Homo sapiens: one gene and its partners. The protein of the gene in region 3 interacts with the protein of the main gene of each other region in a pairwise test. Each region holds a gene or a part of one and is shown on either strand. Other genes may lie near its edges.

Region 1 (3,500 bases), on a different chromosome or scaffold from region 3:
GCAGTGGGCAGGTATGTGGATCATGGAAGAGAATGGAGAGCCTAGAAATAAACCCATACATCTATGGTCAATTGGTTTTGACAAGGGTGCTAAGATAACTCAATGGGGAAAGAACTGTTTCTTCAACAAATGGTGCTAACTGGATATCCACACACAAAAGGATGAAGCTAGACCTCTTCCTCGTGTCATACACAAAAATTGCCTCAAAATGGATCGCAGATCTAAACGTAAGAGCTAAAACTATAAAACTCTGAAGAAAAAAAACATAAGATACAGTTATTATGGAAAACCGTATGGAAGTTCCTCAAAAAATTAAAAATAAAACTACCATATGATCCAGCAATCTCATTACTGGGTATATAACTATAGGAAATAAAATCAGTATATTGAAGAAATATCTGCACTACCACGTTTATTGCAGCATTATTCACAATAGCTAAGATATGGATTTAATCTAAGTGTCCATTAACAAATAAATGGATAAAATAATGAGGTATATATACAAAATGGAATACTATTCAGCCATAAAAAAGAAGGAAATCCTATCATTTGCATGGATGAACCTCCAGAACATTATATTAAGTGAAATAAGCCAAGCATAGAAAGACATATACTGAGTGATCCCACTCATATGTGGAACCTAAAAAAGTTGATCTCATAGAAGTAGAGAGTAGAATAGTGGTTACCAGGGACTGGTGTGGTAGGAGGTGCTTTGAGGACATGTTGGTCAGGGGATACTAAATTTCAGTTAGATGGGAGGAATAGGTTCAAGAAATGTAGTGTACAACATGGTGACTATAGTTAACAATGCAGTGTATTCTTGGAAAATGCTGAGGATTTTAAGTGTTCTCACCACAAAAGTGGTAACAATGTGAGGTAATGCATATGTTAATCAGCTTGATTGGACATTTCACAATGTATATATATTTCCAAATATGATGTACATAATATGTATACATAATTTTGTCAATTTTTAAATAAATTTAATTTTTAGAAGAGAATAAAACATAGGAGTAAATCTTTGTGACCTTAGATTAGGCAACAGTTTCTTAGATATGACACCAAAAATCAAAAGCAACAACAACAACAAAAAAGATAAATAGCACTAAATCAAAATTAAAATCTTTTGTACTTAAGGACATTATCAAGAAAGTGAAAAGACAAGCCACAAAATGGAAAAAAAAAGTAAGTTCCATATATCTGATAAGGGACTTATATCTAGAATATATAAATAACTAATACAACTCAATAATAGCCAAAAAATAAAAGAGCAAAGGATGTGTACTGACATTTCTCCAGAGAAGATATACAAATAGCCAATAAGCACATGAAAAGATGCTCAACATCATTAGCCATCATGGAAATAAAAATCAAAGCCACCGTATATGCCAGTTTTTACAGTTACTACGATAGCCTAAATCAAAAAGTCAGATAATTACAAGTGTTGTCAAAGGTACTGTAGGGTGTGTAAAATGGTGCAGCCACTTTGGAAAACGGTCTGGCAGCTCCTCAAAATGTTAAACACAGGGTTACCATTTGGCCCAGCAATTCTACCACTAAGCTTTACCCAAGTGAAATTAAAACACGTTCACACAAAAACTTGCAAATGATCATTCAGAGCAGCATTTTTCATAATAACCATAAAGTGGAAAGAACCTAAATTTTCATCAACTGATGATGAGTAGATTAAAAACATGTGGTGTCATCCATACAATGGAATAGTATTCAGCCACAAAAAGGAATGAAGTACTGATATGTGTTATGACATGGATGAACCTGGAAAATATTACGCTAAGTTAAAAAAAGCTAGACACAGGAGACCCCATACTATATAGTTCAATTTACATGAACTATCCAGAATAGGTAAGTCTATAGAGATAGAAAATAAATTAGCGGATGCCTAGAGCTAGAGAGCATGAGGGGATTTGGGAGTAAAAGCTAAAGGGTATGAGGTGTCCTCTTGAGGAGATGAAAATGTACTAAAATTGATTGTGGTGATGGTTGCACAACTCTGTGCATATATTAAACACCAATGGAGAAGGAAGGAAGGAAGAGAGGGAGGGAAGGAAGGAGGGAGGGAGGACAGTTGACACAAAATACAATCTCCATAAAATAAAATCAAACAAGTCATTCAAAAGAAGCACAGTTATTACTGTTATGAAACTTAAGGGAACTTAATCTCATTGGTCCTCATTTAAAGAGGGCACCTTCTAACATAAAGAACATTATCCTCAACAACACAGCTGCAGTAAATTCAATGATATAATGAAGTCTCATGGGATTTTTTAAATAATGTCCTTCATGGTAGGCTAATGGCCAATAGTCAAAGCTCAGTAATATAAAAACAGTTCCATAAGGAGCTGTAACAATGTCCTAGATATGCAGCTCTCTAATGGTTTGGCTTAAGCCAAAGATTAAAATCAGAGTATCAAAAAGAACCAATAGGCCATATATCATCCCTGCAGTTCTCCCTGGATATCATTTTCTCCAACTGACTTTTGGTTATACTATCTGATATGGTTTGGCTGTGCCCTACCCCAATCCCATCTTGAATAGTAACTCCCACAACTCCCATGTGTCGTGGGAGGAACCCAGTGGGAGGTGATTGAATTATGGGGGCAGGTCTTTCCTGCACTGTTCTTGTGACAGTAAATGAGTCTCACGAGATCTGATGGTTTTAAAAACTGGAGTTTTGCTGCACAGGCCCTCTCTTTACTGGCTGCCATCCAGGTAAGATGTGACTTGCTCCTCTTTGCCTTCCCCCATGATTGTGAGGCCTCCCCAGCCACGTGGAACTGTAAGTCCAATTAAACCCTTTATTTTGTAAATTGCCCAGTCTTGGGTATGTCTTTATTAGCAGTGAAAACAGACTAATACACTCTCCTAATACCTAGAGTACTAACTTCTAGGTTATTACTTCTTCTTCTGTTACTGATTAAAGGCAGATCCAGGGATTCAGTCCTCCACTTTCTATTTTCATCCCAAAACACCTTCCACAGGCAATCCCATTCACTCCCACTGTCTCACGTGTGAATTCATTCACACATCCATTTACCACAATTATTGAGCACCTACTGTGGTGAGCATTTGGGATGTATCAGTGAACAGAACAGATAAAGATCCCTGGCCTGCTTACCAGCTACCGGGAGAAGAGTGTCAATAAACAAAGTAAGTGAATTAAATGGTTATGTTAGAAGGTGATATGCACTACAGGGGATGTGGGGTGTGAGGTGTTAAGGGAAACTGCGAACACCAGGTATGAGCCAGGAAAGTTGCAGGAAGGGAGGGTTGCAATTTTAAATAAGGCAATCCGGGTAGGTTAAGAAGGTAACACGTGAGTAAAGACTTGAAGGAGGTGAGGAGCCTGCCATGCAAACAATTGGAGGACAGCATACCAGGCAAAGGAAGAGCCAGTGCAAGTCCCCTAAAGTGGGAGCATCCATGCATGCATGGCATGCCCAAGAACAGCAAGTGTGGCTGCAGAAGAGGGGGTGAGGGAG
Region 2 (3,500 bases), on a different chromosome or scaffold from region 3:
TATCATCAATATTTTTAATGTTGGTCCAAATAAAAGGCAAAAGAAATGCTACCCTATTTTTTTTTTTAATATTTTTGATTAGTAGTAATGCTGAATACTTTTTCCTGCTTAATCTATTTGTTTATTTCTGGCTTGCCTGTTCAAATCTGTTGCCTATTTTTCCATTATAGCATTTATCTTCTTACTGATACGTGTTTTTAGTGATCTTTTGTTGATCATAATTACCAACTTTTTTCTTCACTTGTCATTTGGTTTTCAACTTTGTTTATGGTCTTTTTTGACCTGGGGGGTGGGGAATGAAATCTAATCCATCTGTCTAGGATCCACCCTCCTCAAGTACTCCACCATGGCTATTCCAGGACCACACCTTGCCTATGATTACCCTTTGCCTGGGATGGAATTAACATCACTGGTTAATGTTCCTGACTAGACTTTACCTTGAGCTGGAGAGCAACCTTGATAACCGACTTCCAAATGTATCTGCGTTAACCACACATACATGATCATGAAACATTCATAAGAATTCTACCTTTTTCTTTGCAAACGAGTATTTCTTTTTTGTACTGCCATCTAATTCTGCTTTAAGACTGCTGCTGGGATTAATAAGACTCATATCTTTTAAATCCAGGTCAGAAAATCTTAAAATGCAGTTCTCCAGGTCATCTCCTTGGTCTGGTGAAGTGGAAGAAGGCATCTGGTTTGGTTGCAACAGTGAAGCAGATATTCCTTTCAGTTAAATACCTCCTAGAATATAAATAAGAAAGAAGCAGCCATGCTATTCTTTGATTTCTTGAAGAAAATATGAAGCTAATCAATCACGCAAATCAGCATGGGCAAAGTAGCCCAAGCTAACCATCCATTTACTTACTAAATCAATAGTATTTACTTAGGAACGACTCGAAGTCAAGCACTATTCTAAGCACTGAGAATATAGCAGTAAACGAAAGTGAAAAAGTTTCTGCCTGCTTAGAGTTTACATTCCAGTGGGGTGAAGTAAACAAGTGGATAAATTGATTTTTTATTTTTAAAGTCAGATGGTGTAAAGGTTATGAAGAATAATCAGCAGGGTAGGGAGGCAGTGATGGAGAAGCCCTTCGAACACAGAGAGTAGGAAAAGCCTTTCTGCAGCAATAGCATTTGAGCAGAAACCTGAATTAGGGAGCGAGCCATGCAGTCATTAGGGTAAATAATACCAGAAAAGCAACAGGTACAACCCAAATCAATCAAGATGTGTGCCAGCACCTTCAGTTATAAACACTTTCTTCTTTTTGCCCCTTAATTTCAGAGCTATGAAAATTTCCTTCCTTAGAAGAAATAGTTCCCAAGACAGCCCCACTGTAATATGCCAGAAGAAATGTCAAAATCGCTACTGTGGCCAAATCTTGTCAAAATGGACACACTACAACCATCATACCATGTTGGTTCTTTTGTAAAGCAAAGGTGACAGGTGACAAGCACTAAGAGGCACACTGAGAAAAAGTATGGGCTTTGGTTTGTGCTGCAGCAGTTTGCCAAGCATGTGAACATGGGCAAGCTACTTAAGGTTTCTGAGTTCTAAATCTCTCTTGTGGAAATTGTGCATTGTAGTATCTACATTACAGTACTGTACTGTAGACTGGAAAGAAATATTAATATATAGTGTCTGGCACAAACTAGGGTTCAATGAATGGTAATATTATTAATATTTTAATTGAATGCTGTATTTTAAATTTAACATTAAAATTTTATTTAAAAATTAGCTGTGACAGATTATATTTTCCAAAAATGGCTGCAGCAGTATTTCTGGTCCATTTCCCTAAGCCTAGGCAGGCTTGTTAACTACTCCCAAAAATAAAGCGTGATGGAAGCAATGCTGTATGACTGAGGTTGGGTTCTCAAAAGGATACGCTAGTGCAAGCTCTCATTCTGAGATGCTCACGCTGAGGAGACCAAACCACTGTATTGTGAGTAAGCCAATCCAACCCATGCAGAGACCACACACAGAGAACCAGGTGGAGAGGAACAGAGGCCTCCAGCTGACAGCCAGCATCAACCACTAGACCCTTCAGATTCCAGATTGGCCTCTGAGCTGAGAGCAGAGACAAGGTGTCCCTGTTGTGCCCTGTCCAAATTCCTGCCCCACAACATAACAACTGGTTATTTCATATTACTAGTGAACTGGCAAAGTTAGTTTCTTCAGGACAATATTGAAGGAGGCAGCCAGAGGTGGACACTGAAGGTTCTGAAAATAGTAACATGCAAAGTAGTCCCAAACTCCACAAGAGGGAGCAGAAAAAGCACCACTAAGAATGAGAGAAAGGAAGGTGGGAGACACTGGTGACAAACTTTGCCAATTCACAACTCTGCCTACAGGGTACCTCAACCAGGTGAAGGCAACAAGGAGCAGTTTATGTGTGGGGGAACACACACTGCTTGTTAACAATGCTGGATAGGACTGATGGAGACTAAACATACACAGACACACACAGGCAATACCAACTTTCTTATAAAGGACCTTTGTTCCTTGGATTCATAAATTAAGATGTCACTTGCACCACATAAAATGCATTTGAATCAGCTAAGTGGTGCTTTCATGGGGCTCAAAATGAGCTTTGTTATAAGGGTAAGGCAAGGTAATACAGATTTATTAAACCTAAATTCTCTTGTATTTGAAAAATAAGTGGAAGAGACTGGGTGAAGAAATACTACCTTCTTTAGCTTCTCTTTCCTTTCTCATGAAAATGTCTTTCATATAAAGTCCCACTGAAAAAAGTACATCCCTAACTCTACACAAACCTGTAAGCCTTCCAGGCAGAAGTAAAATAAGTAGAAGAATCTTATTCAACACACTTCCTCCATGCTCAAAGCTGTTTTATTGTAAAGGTAGAGAAAGTACATATATCATTTCCAAATTAAAATTCATTCAACAAATATTTATGGAGGGTCTTCTAGGTTCCAGGCATTGTTCTAGAAACAGATAACTTATTTACCTATAAGGGCAGTACATTTGGGAGGTAACATTGTCGAAAGGAATTACTATCCAATCCGGTCCCACCTCCAGCATCTTTTCCAATCTCCCTCTATATGACCTGATGTAGTCTGTCCCAGCATTTATGCTTTCCACTGCTTTGTTTCCCTTACTTTTTCACTTCTTTCCCTCCCCATATGCTTACTATGTATATGAAGACTGAACTCAAGTGTCACCTTTCACTTATGTCTTGTCTGCTACCCTGTGTCACTGCTTCCTTTGAAGGCCTGAAAAACTTAGTTTCCCTATACTCTAGGCTCATCTCTGACTATGCTCCCCATTCCCCATCAGATATCCTACTCTAGCCACACTGGACCATGCCCAGTTCCACAAATGAGCCATGTTCTTTCCTGACTCAAGGTCTCTGCACCTGAGTGTGGGGTGCCTTTCCCACCACCCCAAAATGATCTCCTCCGACTCTGCATCTTTTTTCAGTCTCAGCTTATTTTGATTTATGTACATACTCTGAATTATTATTATTTGTGGCACCTCT
Region 3 (3,500 bases):
GAGGAAGGCACTGACTCCTTTCTCCTGTGGCCCTTCAGGGGCCTGCCCATTGGCTCATAGTGGAACCCGGTCACAGCCCATGTGGCAAGACCCCCCATGATGCCTTGCACAAGGTCAGCCTCCTGGGCCCAGAGCAGGTGAGGGAAGGGCAGTGGATATGTCGGGAGGGTGGAGTGGGCAGGTGGTGAATAACTGGCACTCGGGTTATCTTTTCTTGAGGTTAGGATTGCTCTCCAGTTTTATAGGTGAGGAAGCTGAGCTCAAGTGGTTTTCCTGTGGCCCACCTGGGTGTCATAGCAGAGTGAGCCCTGGAACCCAGGCCTGCCTCGTCCTGACTTCTGTGATCTCGGGCGATCACATAGATCGCAGTGTTCGCTCTTGCATCATGTGTGTTTGACAACTTTTCTGGGTGCCCCTGGCCCTAGGGTAAGACATGCATAGAGTCCAAGTCATCATTTAGGTCAAATCTCTAAAGTCAACTTACAAAAAGGAACAAAGAATAACCCTGCAGGTGCCATTGGCCAGGTTGTTTCTTCACCGCCCAATGATGCCTGACTTTGGCTGGGACCGTCATGCTTTCCTAGCCACGGTTGATGGTGCAGAGGAGGAAGGAACACTCCCCCAGGAGAGTTTGCTGGGCTTGACAGCATGCCCTGATGACCTCTCCCTCCCTCTGCCTTGGCCGTTCTGGTTATTTTGAACTCCTCTTGTGTTCTCACAGATGCTATTCAGGTTTTTGACGTCACCGCTGTGAACATCAGTGCCACAAGCCTGACCCTGATCTGGAAAGTCAGCGATAACGAGTCGTCATCTAACTATACCTACAAGATACATGTGGCGGGGGAGACAGATTCTTCCAATCTCAACGTCAGTGAGCCTCGCGCTGTCATCCCCGGACTCCGCTCCAGCACCTTCTACAACATCACAGTGTGTCCTGTCCTAGGTGACATCGAGGGCACGCCGGGCTTCCTCCAAGTGCACACCCGTGAGTTCATGCCTGGCTCTCACCACCCTTTCCTGCTGTCCTGCTCCGTGCCAGGCCCAGACACAGGATGCATGATGTAGTAATGGTGACTGTTGGCTGACCACACGCCAAGCTTCGTGTGACATGCTTTCCTTGCACTGGCACATTGTATGCTCACAACAGCCCTGTGATGTGGTTGGAAGTAGCCTTATTTTATAGATAGGAAGCCAAGGCTGAGAGAGGTGCTAGACAGGTATCACAGCTGGAAAGTGGCAGAGGTGAGATTAAGCCTCTGGTATTTCTCACCTGGAGCCTGCGCTTGTAACTCTCTTTCCAGTGTGGAGGAGACCTAGAGTGAATTGATACAGGGAGACAAAAATGACCTGGTATTCATATCCCCTTGTGTCTTGGGTGCTGACATTATAACGAATCACTGGCACAGCTGTATCTCATCTTTGTTTGTTTAAATGTCCCTTAAAAATAAGATTTTATGCAGCAAATAAAAAGCTTTAGGTTTCAAAGAAGGTCCGATAATGTAAAATAAAACAGTAATGGTGCACTAGTAGTACAGTGGTATAATATTGATTATATACTATTAAACAATAGTAGTGACACCAGCACTGCATTTTGCACTGTGCCATGAGATTTATAGACACTGTAGTGGCCTCCGAGGTAGGTATTGGGGTCCCCTTTTACAGATGAGGAAATGACACCCTGATGGCTGAACAGTTTGCCCAAAGCCACAGAGCTAGTGAGTAGCAGAGCAGGACTTGAACTCAGGGGTGTGTGGCTCTGGACCCAGGCTTATCCCACAAGAATGTCCATTCCTTCGCAGGAAGCACACCTTAGCATTCTTATAGATGTATTTTGGACTGGATCTTTGGGAAAATGAAATATGCTTGCATTTCTTTACCTTTTACTCTTTTACTATTTATTAGTTAGGATTAGGTTCAGCCACGAATAACACCACCAAAAACAACAACAACAAAACCCAAGTATCCGTGGCTTAAACAAGACAGGGGTTTATTTCTCTCTCCTGTAACAGAAGCCCAGTGCTAGGCAGGATGGGGATGATAGAGGTTATCCAAGGCTCAGTTGTATGAAACAGAAACTGTGAGCTATTTTAACCAAAAGGGATTTATCCTGGGAATTGAGGTTTTGCAGAATCATTGGAAGAGCTGGTGTATTAGTTTGCTAGGGCTACCAGAACAAGTACCAAAGGCTGTGTGGCTTGAACAGAAATAGACTTTCTCATAGTTCTGGAGGCTGAAGGTCAAAGATTAAGGCAACGGCAGGTGTGGTTTCTTCTGAGGCCTCCCTCTTGGCTTATAGATGACTGTCTTCTCCCTCACATGGTTGTCCTTAGTCTGCGTGTGCCTATGCCCTCATCTCCCTTTATAAGGACACCAGTCTTGCTGGATTAGGGCCTACCTTCATGACCTCACATTAACTTAATTACCTCTTTGAAGACCCTGTCTCCAAAGACAGCCACATTCTGAGGTCTTGGGGGTTAGGACATAAACATACACATTTGGGGGTGAGGGAGCACAAGTCAGCTCATAACAGTTGAGGAGCAGGCTTTAGGCCTCGCCCCAAGAAATGACTCCTGGACTAAGTCTGCAGAACTGACCCCCTGGAGAGTCACCACCTTGGTCACAGACAGCAGAGGGAGGAATCAGGAAGTCTCTGCTGTAGTTGCGGGATCCAGGGGTCTATGTTCTGAGCTGTGATCCTGGGATCAGGAAGCTGCAGCCACCGCTGAGGTTTTGGTTCTAGAGCCAGGCAGCGTGAGCTCCAGTCATTGCATCCACACTACAGGTATAAGAAGGAGGAAGGGCAGAAGGTTGTGCCCCACCCTTAAAGGACACTTCCTAGAAGTCACCCAGTACCTCTGCTCATGCTTCGTTGAGCAAAACTTAGTCACATTGCAACATCTAGCTCCATGGGAGCTGGGAAATGTGGTCTTTGTTTCCAACAGGTATGCACACACAGGGCTAAAAATCTGGGTGGGTATGATGAAGGGAAAATGGGGGAATGGATTTTGGGGGTCAAGACTGGTCTCTCTCTGCTGTCCCTCCCTGAACAGAGGCTCTGGGAGGCTAGTAATGCATTCGAGATAAAGCAGCCAGTGTGGCCAAGGTTCTCCTCCAGAGCCTGAGCCCTTGACCACAGGAGCTCACGCCTCCTCTCATTTCCTGTGAATGATTGTGTGCAATGTAAGCACAGAGCTTCTGCACTCTCATGATCAAGTGCTCTCTCCATGGCCAGAAACAGCAGTTTCTGAGGGGCTCATGTTGTAGGTGATGATACAAAGAAGACAGAGAGAGGGATCAGGTGTCCTAAGTGTACATTTCATCTCAGTATTTTCTGAGGTGGGGCATCCCTGTCTCCTGGAGAAGTATATTTTTAATCTAGTTGTTTACTTTCTTTGCATAGCCCCTGTTCCAGTTTCTGACTTCCGAGTGACAGTGGTCAGCACGACGGAGATCGGCTTAGCATGGAGCAGCCATGATGCAGAATCATTTCAGATGCATAT
Region 4 (3,500 bases), on a different chromosome or scaffold from region 3:
AACATCCCTTTGCTTTGGGACTCTCTCACATCTGTGTCCCTAAGAAACAGCAAAACTTCCTATGTTTGTAGGATTTTTAATGTATTTTATTTTTAATATGGTATGTATAAAACATAAATTTAGAAAGTAACTGTGACCTAGTTTTTCATAACTACAACATCACATACATCCAAATGCCCCTTCCAGGAAGGTACAGATCTTAAAAACACTGTCCCTGCTCAAAATATCATCTGTGGTGGCAGTGGATCTTTATCCCTCTTGGAGTGGATTTGATTTCTACAAGCAGCCAAAAATCACTGTGGGCCATATCTAATAAGCAGGTTGGGTAAATAAAGCCATGAAGTACAATTTTTAGTCAAAAATCAATTATATGGGCTGGGCACGGTGGCTCACACCTGTAATCCCAGCACTTTGGGAGGCCAAGGCAGGAGGCTCACAAGGTCAGAAATTTGAGACCAGCCTGACCAACATGGTGAAACGCCATCTCTACTAAAAATACACACACACAAAAAAATTAGCCAGGTATGGTGGCGCACGCCTGTAATTCTAGCTACTCAGGAGGCAGGAGGATCACTTGAACCCGGGAGGTGGAGGTTGCAGTGAGCCAAGATTGCACCACTGCACTCCAGCCTGGGTGACAGAAAGAGACTGTATCTCAAAAAAAAAAAAAAAAATCAATTATATGGCAATAAGGTTCCTTTACTGCATGGCTCATAGAAAATGGCTCTGAAGGCCACTCAAAAATGAGGAGAGCTCATCACACTCCCCTGTGACGGCGTTTCTGGGAGAGGCTCCAGGCCTCTGCTTGGCCGTTTATCTGGCATGGGTGCCTTCCCCCAATTCCCTGCCTACTCATCCTGCCAGGCTCAGCTCAAGCACTGTTTCCTTCCACACTCCCTCCCAGACACAAGTCAGGATTCTCCTCTCAGAGTGCCCACAGCACTCTGCCCAGACCTTTACTCCAGCACCAAACTTCCTCCCATTTCAACACCTTTAACCTCTTCTAGACTCAGAACTTCCTGAAGTCACTTCTTATTTCTGCAACAGCTCTGAATTTTGCTGTTTGCTATCAATCAGTTCCTGTTTTGTAGTTACACTGCGTAATTTCTCATTTTAATCATTTTTTTAATCAGTAAGGCATATTTCAAACATCTGACACATACTGCACTGCAGTTTAAAAAACAAAACTTTCCAGGCTGGGTGTGGTGGCTCACGCCTGTAATCCCAGCTACTCAGGAGGCTGAGGGAGGAGAATCGCTTGAACCCGGGAGGAGGCGGTTGCGGTGAGCCGAGATCGCGTCACTACACTCCAGCCTGGGTGACAGAGTAAGACTCCGTCTCAAAAAAAAAAAAAAAAAGAAAGAAAGAAAAAAGAAAAGAAAGAAAAACAAAACTTTCCATAGTAGTTTGCATTAGACAATAACCACAGGACAAGTGGTAAGCATAAAGTGTCTAGAAGGCAGGACTGTTTTGTTCCACCATAAAATCCTTTTACAACTGACCAGCCTCCTCCCATCAACTGTATACAGTGATGTAATGATTTCTATCAACAAAACTTTTAAAAATAAAAAGATCAATTTTAAAATCAAAAGCTTTGTTTAAAAGTAAAGCCTTAGGAGCCAAAGAGAAGCACAACCCTCAAGTGGCATCACCACTCATGACCACGAGACTGCCGTGTCCAGAAGTGCAGGGGGTGCCCTGCATACGGCACTTGGCTGAAGTTTGCATGTTGGGGCTAAAACCAGTTCCTGGGCCCTGGCAGGTGGCTGCCTCCACCCAGAGGAAGGGGTGGCTTTTCCTTTGCAAAAGGCAACAGTGTGGGCTGGCTGTGGCTCTGACAGGAAGAAATGGGGAAATCTCAGAGTCAGTTGGCATGTATCTCCAGTCCCAACTTTTAGACTTCTTTTTCCCATCAGAAAAACCTCCTTCAGGTTGGATTATCAAAGCCAAATACCCCCCTAGCCTCTTCATTCTCTCCCTGCTAGTAAAGCAGGGGAAAATCTAGTATCTTTGGTTGTGTAAGCCTTTATTTTCTGGATATAGAATGAAAGTCTTCATTGTCTCAATAAGGAACTCCAGCTTGCCTTTGCATGTCACTGAGGTGTGACATCCCAGAAATCACACAGGTAGTGATCTGACCCCAGAGATGGTCCCCTGCTCTCTGGGGATACGGACATCAAGTTCCTCTGCCTTTTACTTCTCCCAAGATCAAAACTCAAGTCCTTACAATGGCCTATAAAACCCTTAGGTGACCTCGTCCCTTTTCTAGTGCCTCTTTGACCTCATATCCTTCCGCTCAGCCCTCCTCAGTCCACTCTGACCACATGACCTCAAACGTGCCATGCACCCTCCACTTTGCGGCTGTGCACTGGCTGTCCCTCAGGCCAGCATGTCCTTTCTCTGGACAGGCTGGCTCATGTCTTCACCTCTTTGACCTTTGCTCATATGTGTCTTTCTCAGTGAGGCCCACTGGGGCCACCTATTTAAAATTGCAACAGGCTAGGTGCAGTGGCTCACACCTGTAATCCCTGCACTTTGGGAGGCTGAGACAGAGGATCCCCTGACCCCCAAGAGTTCAAGACAAGTCTGGGCAACAAAATGAGACCCCGTCTCTTTAAAAATTCAAAATAGGTTGGGCACGGTGGCTCACACCTGTAATCTGGACACTTTGGGAGGCCAAGGCGGGGGAATCACAAGGTCAGGAGATCGAGACCATCCTGCCTAACACGGTGAAACTCAGTCTCTACTAAAAATACAAAAAATTAGCTGGGTGTGGTGGCGGGCGCCTGTAGTCCCAGCTACTCGGGAGGCGGAGGCAGGTGAATGGTGTGAACCCGGGAGGCGGAGCTTGCAGTGAGCCGAGATCGAGCCATTGCACTCCAGCCTGGGCGACAGAGCGAGACTCCGTCTCAAAAAAAAAAAAAAAAAAAATCAAAATATTAGCCAGGTGTTGTGGTGCACACCTGTAGTCCCAGCTACACAGAAGGCTGAGGTGGGAGGACTGCTTGAGCCCGGAAGGCTGAGGCTGCAGTAAGCCATGTTCTTGCCACTGCACTCCAGTCTGGGTGACAGAGTGAGACCCTGTCTCAAAAATAAAATAAAATAGTAACAACACTCCAAGCCTGCTGTATTCTTAAATTTTTCAGTAACTCTTATCACCTTCTAATATTATATAATGTTGAATATGTTTGGTCTAATAACTTGATTGCTTATTATACTTTTAATTTGTCTCTCTCCTCCCCATTAGAATGCAAGCTCCATGACAGCAGGGGTTTTTTATATCTGTTTTGTTCACTGATGTATTCCAAGAACCTAGACCAATGTCTGGTACCTAGCAGAAGCTCAGTAAACAACTGTAGAATGAATAAATGAACTTCCCTCTTTATATGGTTATGCTGGCTCCTTACTGAGTTGTAACACAAAGAACAGCTTTTTGCAATCTGACATCTCCTTGGCAACCAGCTTCTTCTTTTTGATGGAGTCTCACTCTGTCACCCAGG

What was found. Proteins that work in one complex are often made in the same cells at the same time.
Region 1: the proteins of PTPRJ (region 3) and TMEFF1 interact in a two-hybrid assay, tested with the Homo sapiens proteins (one large-scale study listed by BioGRID).
Region 2: the proteins of PTPRJ (region 3) and TSTD2 interact in a two-hybrid assay, tested with the Homo sapiens proteins (one large-scale study listed by BioGRID and IntAct).
Region 4: the proteins of PTPRJ (region 3) and TRMO interact in a two-hybrid assay, tested with the Homo sapiens proteins (one large-scale study listed by BioGRID and IntAct).

The regions. Positions count from the first base shown.
Region 1 is NC_000009.12:100,567,149-100,570,648, reverse strand, and holds part of TMEFF1 (tomoregulin-1 precursor), read right to left. Parts: intron 1-3,500.
Region 2 is NC_000009.12:97,626,869-97,630,368, forward strand, and holds part of TSTD2 (thiosulfate sulfurtransferase/rhodanese-like domain-containing protein 2), read right to left. Parts: intron 745-3,500; 5' UTR 695-744; coding exon 530-694; intron 1-529.
Region 3 is NC_000011.10:48,127,059-48,130,558, forward strand, and holds part of PTPRJ (receptor-type tyrosine-protein phosphatase eta isoform 1 precursor), read left to right. Parts: intron 1-721; coding exon 722-985; intron 986-3,400; coding exon 3,401-3,500. UniProt on the Homo sapiens protein: Tyrosine phosphatase which dephosphorylates or contributes to the dephosphorylation of CTNND1, FLT3, PDGFRB, MET, KDR, LYN, SRC, MAPK1, MAPK3, EGFR, TJP1, OCLN, PIK3R1 and PIK3R2. Plays a role in cell adhesion, migration, proliferation and differentiation.
Region 4 is NC_000009.12:97,905,501-97,909,000, forward strand, and holds part of TRMO (tRNA (adenine(37)-N6)-methyltransferase), read right to left. Parts: intron 1-3,500. UniProt on the Homo sapiens protein: S-adenosyl-L-methionine-dependent methyltransferase responsible for the addition of the methyl group in the formation of N6-methyl-N6-threonylcarbamoyladenosine at position 37 (m(6)t(6)A37) of the tRNA anticodon loop of tRNA(Ser)(GCU).